2 separate regions of the Homo sapiens genome follow, and region 2 is linked to region 1. Evidence: fine-mapped expression QTL. A gene starts in region 1. The other region holds a variant in brackets. All regions are shown on one strand. Distances are from middle to middle.

Evidence for each region. PIP is the estimated chance that this variant, and not a neighbour inherited with it, causes the effect.
Region 2: its variant is the best candidate, but not a certain one, in a credible set for the expression of LINC02884 in subcutaneous fat (GTEx, PIP 0.50).

What each region holds. Positions count from the first base shown.
Region 1 is chr1:112,358,136-112,362,135 of GRCh38, forward strand. LINC02884 (long intergenic non-protein coding RNA 2884) reads right to left here and starts at 2,472. Exons shown (of 2, transcript NR_183466.1): 1 at 2,227-2,472.
Region 2 is chr1:112,236,912-112,241,432 of GRCh38, forward strand. The region is part of intron 1 of LINC02884 (long intergenic non-protein coding RNA 2884); the gene reads right to left. Among named protein-coding and RNA genes, the nearest start is that of LINC02884, 120 kb to the right of the region's middle. The variant C/G (reference allele first, on the strand shown) is at 2,295.

The sequences.
Region 1 (4,000 bases):
GATTCTAGGCCTCCCTGGGAAAAAATTAATCTAAAATGTTAGAGCAGGATTTGTCCTTGTGTCCAAAGGCTCTGTGCTAATGACTTCAACATGACCACACAGCTTGGCCCATTTGTAAGTTGACCACAATCTCACCAGGGCTAGTTCAGCTCTTGCACAAGCCCCAAATGGGAAGATTCCGTTAGTCTAAACAAAAAAATATTATGGGGAGTACTTCACTGTGAACCACATATACTTATTTAAGGCTTTCAGGGTAAGGGATGAGGAGAGGTGAGGAGGCAGAGGGATCACAGTATGAAACCAAGTAGGCAGAACAGAGTATCGGTAGAGAGTAGAAGCTCCGAGTTCAGCGTGCCTCTTTACATCACTTTCTGACTATAAACCTTAGAGATGCTATTTAACATTTCTATCTCAGTTTTCTCATCTGTAAAATGGGGACAGTGACGGTACCTAGCTCATTGGATTGTGGTGTGAGGAGATGAGATGAAGTATGTGACGTGCTTGGGACAGTAGATGGCACATGGAAGAGCTCAATAAACACTAACTATCCTCAAAACACATGAAAACTACTCAAGAGACATTTCACTTGCGGGCACATGAACTTACTACCAATTGAGAGTCTCAGCGCTGAGGTTGTGCAGTGAAGGAGCATGTCAAATGGTGGGAATTAATCAAGAAATCCTTTCAGGAGGAAGGACAACTTCAACACAGGTTAAAAGAGAAGAGACAGGATAGCACTGCCTGCAGCTGTGCATGTCCTAGCGTGTGTCCCCATTATGCTAGACCCACAGCCAAGAGGAGCCAAGCAACCCCACAGAATTACCAGCAAGCCGCCAGCAGATGGAGCCAGCCACCTCCACACACTGCTGTTCAAGGCACCAGCACCCTCTAAATGGACCGGCACCCAGCCCACGTCCAGTCAGGAGCAGGACTGAGAGAGATCAAGGAAGAGTCACCCTTCACGCCCCTGTGGAGATGATAAGGGTGCTTTCCTGCCCCAGTGTGAGGGGAGAGGGAATCCAGACTCTCCCTGATGCCTCAGAGGCACAGCTCACTGTCAGAGTCCTTGCCATCCTGGAAGCCTAGGACTGCAGCCCAGTGCCCTTGTTGTTCACCTACCCCACTGTGGGAAGGAAAAGCAGGATGCCTGATGAACTTACTTTGAGGGCTGGGACTGCACTTGAATGTAGAGACTGGTATCCATCTGAGTCTGGGAGATTCTGAAAGCAAGAGGCCCACTACAGTAGCCCATCCGGCAGGGCTCGAAGGACCCTGGGGCAGCATGACTGGGAAGAAGATGGGGGCAGCTCTCCCTTCCCAGGTCTGTGGGGCCCTTGAAGGATTATGGGAGAGGATTCCTGCAGGCCCTGTGGCTCTGCATGGAGATGCACGGAAGTCAGTGGAAGGGCAGGAGCTGAGGGTTTGCCCAGGTACCCATGGCCAAGTCAACAAAGGGTCGTTGGGCACCTGTACCACTGTTGAGGCTAAAGAGAGGTGCATCTGTGTGAGGGAAGGAGGGGGAAAGGGTGGTGTTCAGTGATGGAGGAGGGTGGGGTGAGATCTTCAGCATCTAACAGAGCCACAAAGAACAGGAAGGGGAAAAGGACACTCCTGTAAAGAGGTCTCTTACTCTCCATCCCTCCTCTCTGCCCAAATACAGATGCTGAGGCCTCAAAGAGGGAGGAGGTGAGGCATCTTCAAGCCAGGCCCTACTTCCCCTCCACTGCTCCAAACAACCAGGACCCAACTCTCACTTGTGCTGGAGGGAAGGGGAGAGAAGAGCTCTGAATCGAGTTTGCAATGAAAGTTTTAAAAATATAAGAGGCTGAGTCTTAATTACTGGAATGAGACTGTTATAGTAACCGAAAGTGGCTGAAAAGTTATGGAACCAGACCAAGATGTCGTTAAGGGAGCGGCTCCTCAGCAGGAAAGAGAGATCTGGCACAGCACAGCCAGGGCAGTTACTGGAAGAAATAAAATCTTTTCATGTTTATACCCCAACGAGTTGAGACTCCCCAGTGAATCAGGCACACAGGAAGTACCTGGGCCTTGGACACCAGTGTCCCTGTGGTCAGAGTACCCCATGAAGGATGATGTCACGCGGAGCACAACCTCCTCTTCCCATTCAGGTGCTGTCTCACCTCCCAGGGCAAGAGAAGCAGGAGGAATTTGTCCTCCAGCTTTAATGAGGCACTTAGAAAGAGGAACAGGATGGTTTCTTCTTACCGGAATCCTCGATGGAATGCAGGCGCAGGCAGCTGAAAGAGATGGTGCAATTTGCATACTTCTGGTGGATTCCAGGAAGCATCAGCCCCATTTCACCCTAACAGCCAGTGGACTCTGCCTGGGAGGGCCAACAGCCAAAGAGAGCTTTCAGTCTCCAGGCTGAGAAAGTCAGGAGAGGAACAAGTCAGGGGACACCACCAGCCCTGGGACAGCGTGGCAGCATATCCAGAAGATCAGGAAACTGCCGCAGAGGCTTGGTCCCCTACTGGAAATTGAAAGAAAATGAAGTTTAGAAAGAGCAGGGTGGGAACTGGTTTGCAGAACAGAATGTTCCCTTGGCTTATTTTCATCTGGGGGAAAGGGAAGAACTAATACTTATTGAATGCCTGTGCTGTATCAGGCACTATGTTCATTCTTGTCTTATTTAATCCTCCCACAACCCTGTAAGGAAAGCATTTTCTCCATTTTACAGATGAAAAAACTGAGGCAGAGTGGTTGCCTAAGGTCACATGTTGTTGGAATTTGAACTTCATGTTTGTCTGTGTGGTAGACAGACACAGAGATGCCATGCTTACATTGCCCCTTCAATAAAGGACTCACTCCCCTGCTACCAAGAATGTTGGTTTTATTTGCCCCCAGCAATTAGTTCCTTCAAGGACCACCTGAGTTTTTAAGCCACAGTCACTCTCTTCTTAAGGCAGCCCCTAGCCAATGGCTGAGCAAGGTGGTAGTACAAAGGCCCATCCCTCTTCTACCAATGCGGAACTCCTCTAACAAGCAATTTTTGCTCAGAGCACCCTGTTAGACTGGCAGAGGCTTTGTCAAGTCTGCATCAGAAGCCAAGAGCTCCTCCTGGCCAAACTGCTTCCTCCCTTTTCCACTCACAGGTGATCCTCCCCTTTGCACTTCTACCTCTGTTGCAGCATCTAGTTCCAGAGAACCCAGTGGAGACTCCTAACAGCCTGACTGCAAAGCTTTCCCTTTTTCTGACACTTTATCTTCATTTTCACTTGTCCTTAGGTAACATTGCTGCAGTGCAGAGAGTGAGCTCCTTCTTGGTAGCAGGGGCTTCACCCCTTCCAGAAGAAAGCTACTGAAGGTTTAGTGATTAAGGCAGTTTCCAAAGAGTTAGTTATCCTTGATGATTATGTGCTCAATGCTCAAAGGCAGTTGCTAACATTCAGACTTTGAGGTCTAAAGTCCAAGTAAAGAGTCTACCCCCACCTTCTCCCTCTCCCTGACGTCAATTCCACCCCCTTAAATTGCTACAACATGGAATTAAGATATATAGTTTTATTATTTGTTGTGCTTAATGGAAAAGCTTTAGGATTTCTGAGTTTAATTTAAAAAGCAGATGGTCATAAGCAACAAAAGAAACAAATATATAAATTGGACTTCATCAAAACTAAAAATTTTGTGCTTCAAAGTACACTATCAAGAAAGTGAAAAAATAAGCCAGCACCCATAATCCCAGCTACTCAGGAGGCTGAGGCAGAAGGATCACTTGAGCCCAGGAGTTCAAGGCCAGCCTAGGCAACACAGAAAGACCCCATCTCTAAAATAATAATAATAACAAAGAAAGTAAAAAGACAAGCCAATTAAATAAGGGCAAAGAATTTGAATAAACATTTTTTCAAATAAAATATACACATAGCCAACGTGCACATGAAAAGTTGTTCAACATCATCAGTCATTAGGGTAATGCAAATCAAAACCAGAATGACACATCACTTTATATCCACTAGCATGGCTATAATTTTTTAAATGGACAATA
Region 2 (4,521 bases), 120 kb before region 1:
GCTTTAGGATCCAGAGGATTACTTGAGGATCTTTTGAAACTACCAATGTACAAGTTTCACCCCAGATCAACTGAATCAGAATCTGGGAATGGAGCAATAGAATGTTTTAAAAGCTTACAATGCCAGTGAAAGACACTTGTCTAGATTCTACCTGTCTCTACCAGGTCAAATAATTAGCAAGAGCATCATGGCAAACAGTTTAATGAGTCCTAGTTCTAGAGCAGAGACTGATGTCACCTGCTGGAGGTGGCCTCTCTGGACTACAAGGATTAGTGATATGCAGAAGGTCATTGGAGACTCATGGGACAAATCTGACTGGTCTCATAATCACTCACTCAAGAAGTACGTTTTTGTTTTTTTTAGACAGGGTCTCTCTCTGTTGCCCAGGCCAGAGTGCAGTGGCACAGCCACTGCAGCCTTGACCTCTCAGGCCCAAGTGATCCTCCTGCCTCAGCCTCTTGAGTAGCTGAGACTACAAGCATGTGCCACCATACCCAGCTAAGTTTGAAATTTTTTTGTAGAGACTGGTCTCACGATGTCACCCAGGCTGGTCTTGAACTCCTGGGCTCAAGCGATCCTCCCACCTTGGCCTCCCAAAATGCTGGGATTACAGGTGTGAGGCAATGCGACTGGCCAAGAAGTACTTATTGATTGCCAAACTGAACTAAACTACATCAGAGTTTTGAATTCCAGTCAAACATATCCCATGGCCTGCTCTACATTCTTGCTTAAACATAAACAGACATCTTGAACTTGACGTATTTAAAACCTAACACCTGATTTATCCTGATCAAACCAGCTGGTCCAACAGTCTTCCACATCTCAATTAATGGAACCTCCTACCCTCTGATTACTCAGGCCCCAAACGTTGGTATCATCCTTGATGCCTCTCCTTCTGTCACATTTTACATTCCAACCCATCAATGAATCCTGCAGGTTTTCCCTTCAAAATACATCTAGAATCTAACCACTTCTCACCACCTCCACCCACTGTCTCCCTGCCCCAAGCCACCACCATCACTTGCCTGAATTATAGCAATAGCTTCTGAAAAATTGTCCCTGATTAACCCTTGCCCCTTGCAGACTTTTCTTCACATAGCAGCCAGAGTAATTTTTAAAAACATAAGTCAAATTACACCACTTATCTGTAAAACTTACAGTGTCTTCCAATCTCACTCAGAGTATGATGTGCCAGTTTGACTGAGCCATGGAGAGCCCGGATGTTTGCTCAAACATTATTCTGGGTGTGTCAGTCAAGGTGTTTCTCAATGACATTAACATTTGGATCTGTTGATAGTAAAGCAAATTGCCCTTCTCAGTGTGGGTGGCCTCATCCAATCAGTTGAAAGCTGACTAGAACAAAAGGGCTGATCCTTCCACAAGTAAGGGGGACTCCTCCTTCCTGACTGCCTTTGAGCTGAAACACTGGCTTTTTTCCACCCCTCAGGCTTAAACTAAAATATTGGTTCTTCCCAGGTCTCCAGCCTGCCAGTATGCAAACTAGAACTACACCACTGAGTCTCCTGGGTCTCTAGGGTGCCAACAGCAGATCTTGGGACTTGTCAAACCGCATAATTGCATGAGCTAATTCCTTACAATAAGTCTGTTTATATATACACCCTGTTGATTCTGTTTCTCTGCAGAACCCTGACTAACACACAGATCCAAAGTCTTTACCAAGACCTCCAGGGTCTTATATAATCAGACCTCCTATTACCTCTCCTTCTCCTCTCCATCTTCCTCCTCATTTCCTTCCTCTCCCCTTCAAATGCTGTGCTCCCACAATGTTAGCCTCAAATGAGTCAAACATATGTCCCCCTTGGGACTTTTGCACCTGCTGTTCCTTCTGCCTGGAAAGCTCTTCTGCACAGCTCACTCCTTCACTTGCTAAAGGTCTCTCCCAGCTCACTGATGTCTTATTGGAGAGGACAACCTTGACACACGCCTCTGTCCCATATAAAATAGCAATCCATCCCCATATGACATTCCTAAGTCTTCTTCTCCTGCTTTAATTTTCTCTGTCATGCCCTTGACTGCCTGATATATTAAATATTTGTCTGCTTACTGTCTTTTCCCACACTAAAATGACTCAGACAAAAAAACACACAGATAGAAAAACAAGCAGTAAAGGAGGATAAAGCATGAGAAGGCATTGTCTCAAATAGGGGAGTTAGGAAAGGCCTCCTTGAGGAAATGAAATGGATACAAAGCCTAGGTGAAGTGAGGGAGAATCAGGCTGAAAATGGGAAAGAGAGGCTATGAACAGGGCACCCCACTCATATCTCCTTGTCATT[C/G]TTTATTCAGGTAAGTGCCAATGACGTCCTTCTGAGAACACCTATCACCCCTTCCTGAAGGCTTTCCTCAGCCTGCACATGGGGCAGGTCAGATGCACGGGGGCGGTGGGCAAGGATTAATACCCCTCAGCCAACAGCCCTCAGCAAATGATGGCAAGCAGTTAGAGAATAAGGACCATGGATCCAGCAAATGATGGTGAGGAGTTAAAGAATAAAGACCCTGGCTTCTTCACCCTTTCTATGGGACAACTCTGAGTCATGTTCAAAACCATCTCCCGGAGTCCCCAGTGGGACTGAGCCCACATGCCCACAGGGTTAACCTGCTCCAGGACACATTGTTTTGGCTTTCTTCCCTTCTGTACCTGCCAGTGCTTCCTGGGTTCAATGTCCCCTGGATTCATTCACATTGAAATCCTCATCTCAGAATGCAGCCTAAGACAAAAGAGAGCTCACCTGGTTGCTGATGGCTTTTTAGCCTTGAGATGGGGAGTCTGTGGGAGTGACATGCAGTGGGAAGGAGGCCTCTGCCTGGGGGAGCTGTGTGCAGGGTGGACCGCAGGCGCAGGGAGTGGGGTGCTGGAGCTGTCTAGGGGAGGCTTGTGATCCACACATCTTTCACCGCCCCACACAAAACAGAATGCAATATTCAAATCAGGCTGAGGTCCTGGAGGGAGAGAGAGGCTACACAGGCCTGGTGGTGAATCTGCAGAAGCAGATTAACCCAATCTGCATACTAAACAGCATGTAAATTACGTTATTTCAACCCATAAGTTTAGACATGTCCATAGGAATAAAAATTTATGACAGTGATAAGATGTATGGTTGGCGAAAATAAGCTAGCCCAAGCAAAATATGCTAAAAGGGCTATGGAAATTCTCCAAATTAAGTGAGTGAAGCCAGCCCCAGCCTTCAGCCCGGAGGTGGGGAAGCTGACTCCTGGCCCTCAGGGCACTCTGCTGCCTCCAGACACTACAGGAGAGGGAGAGAATGGTCAGTGCTCATGCAAAGATGGGGGAGCTGCAACCCCTGGGAAAAGGGCTCTGCCTTTGGAAGGGGTCACCTTTACAGATGAAGCAGAAATCATTCCAGGATCCAGGGTAAATTCTTTCAATAATGGTAAATAATAATAGTAGCTAATATTTTTGAGGACTTAGTATATGCCTAGCTTACTTCTGTGCCCTCTATGTGTTCTATTCATTTAATTCTTATAACCACCCCATGAGGTAGGTATCATTTTGTATTCCATTTTAATATGAGGAAACTGAGGCTCAGAAGTTAAGCTTGCAGTAAGCAATAGAACTGAACTTGGGCAGCCTGGCCCCAGAGTCTACGTATTTAACCATAATGCTCTACTGCTTCCATTGAATGTTATGTGGAAAAGAACTTTGAGAGTAATTTATTTCATCCCTCTCACCTTACAGATGAGAAAAATTGAGGCCAAGGAGATGCAGAGACGTGCTCAAGGCCATGCAGCTGGGATAGCAGAGCCAAGATCCTGGCTTAGGTTTTCAGACATCATGGTCAAGGTCTTTCATGTGCCTAGGGCACCTCCTCCCTGTGTCACTTGCAGTGGTCTTGGAAGGCTTAAGGGGCTGGAATCAGGTGAGAACTACCAGCCTGCATTTTCTTTCCTGTATGGCCCTGAGTAACAGACAGAGAAGGTCTGTCTTTAGTAGATTTGCATAGGGCAGAGCAGAAGAAGTTTAGTTTCTGCTCTCAGAAGTGTTCTTTCATAGCCAGAATACTCTACCCTGCCTGTCTGGGGTGAAAGAACTCCACAGAATGTATACCAACGCTTGCCTCAATGCCAGGCTCCTGTTCCAAGTGTCTTGACCCTGTCACTTGGCTAAATTCTCATGATTCCCAAGGGCCAAGACTTTTTTGGCCAGGGTTCATTCAGTTGAAAGTGATCAACCCAAACTCAAACCAGCTATGCCAAAGAGGAGGTTTCTGGAGGGATTGGGAAGCCAGGGTGGAGCTGGCCAGGTCCAGGAGGACATGCTGTGTCTTGAGGACTTGATGCCTCCATCTGCGTTCCTTGTGCCTGGGAACACACACTCAGGGAGGTGCTCTCCACACAGTGGGAGAGAGAACAGCCCCAAGCCCTCATTCTGAGCAGGGAGCAGAGACTCCCTCTCCCAGAGCCGATATGTCAAGTCTATTTATTCTTTCAACAGGATGCAGGGAGCCCCTATCGTGGTCAGGCACCAGGGATACAGCCATAAAC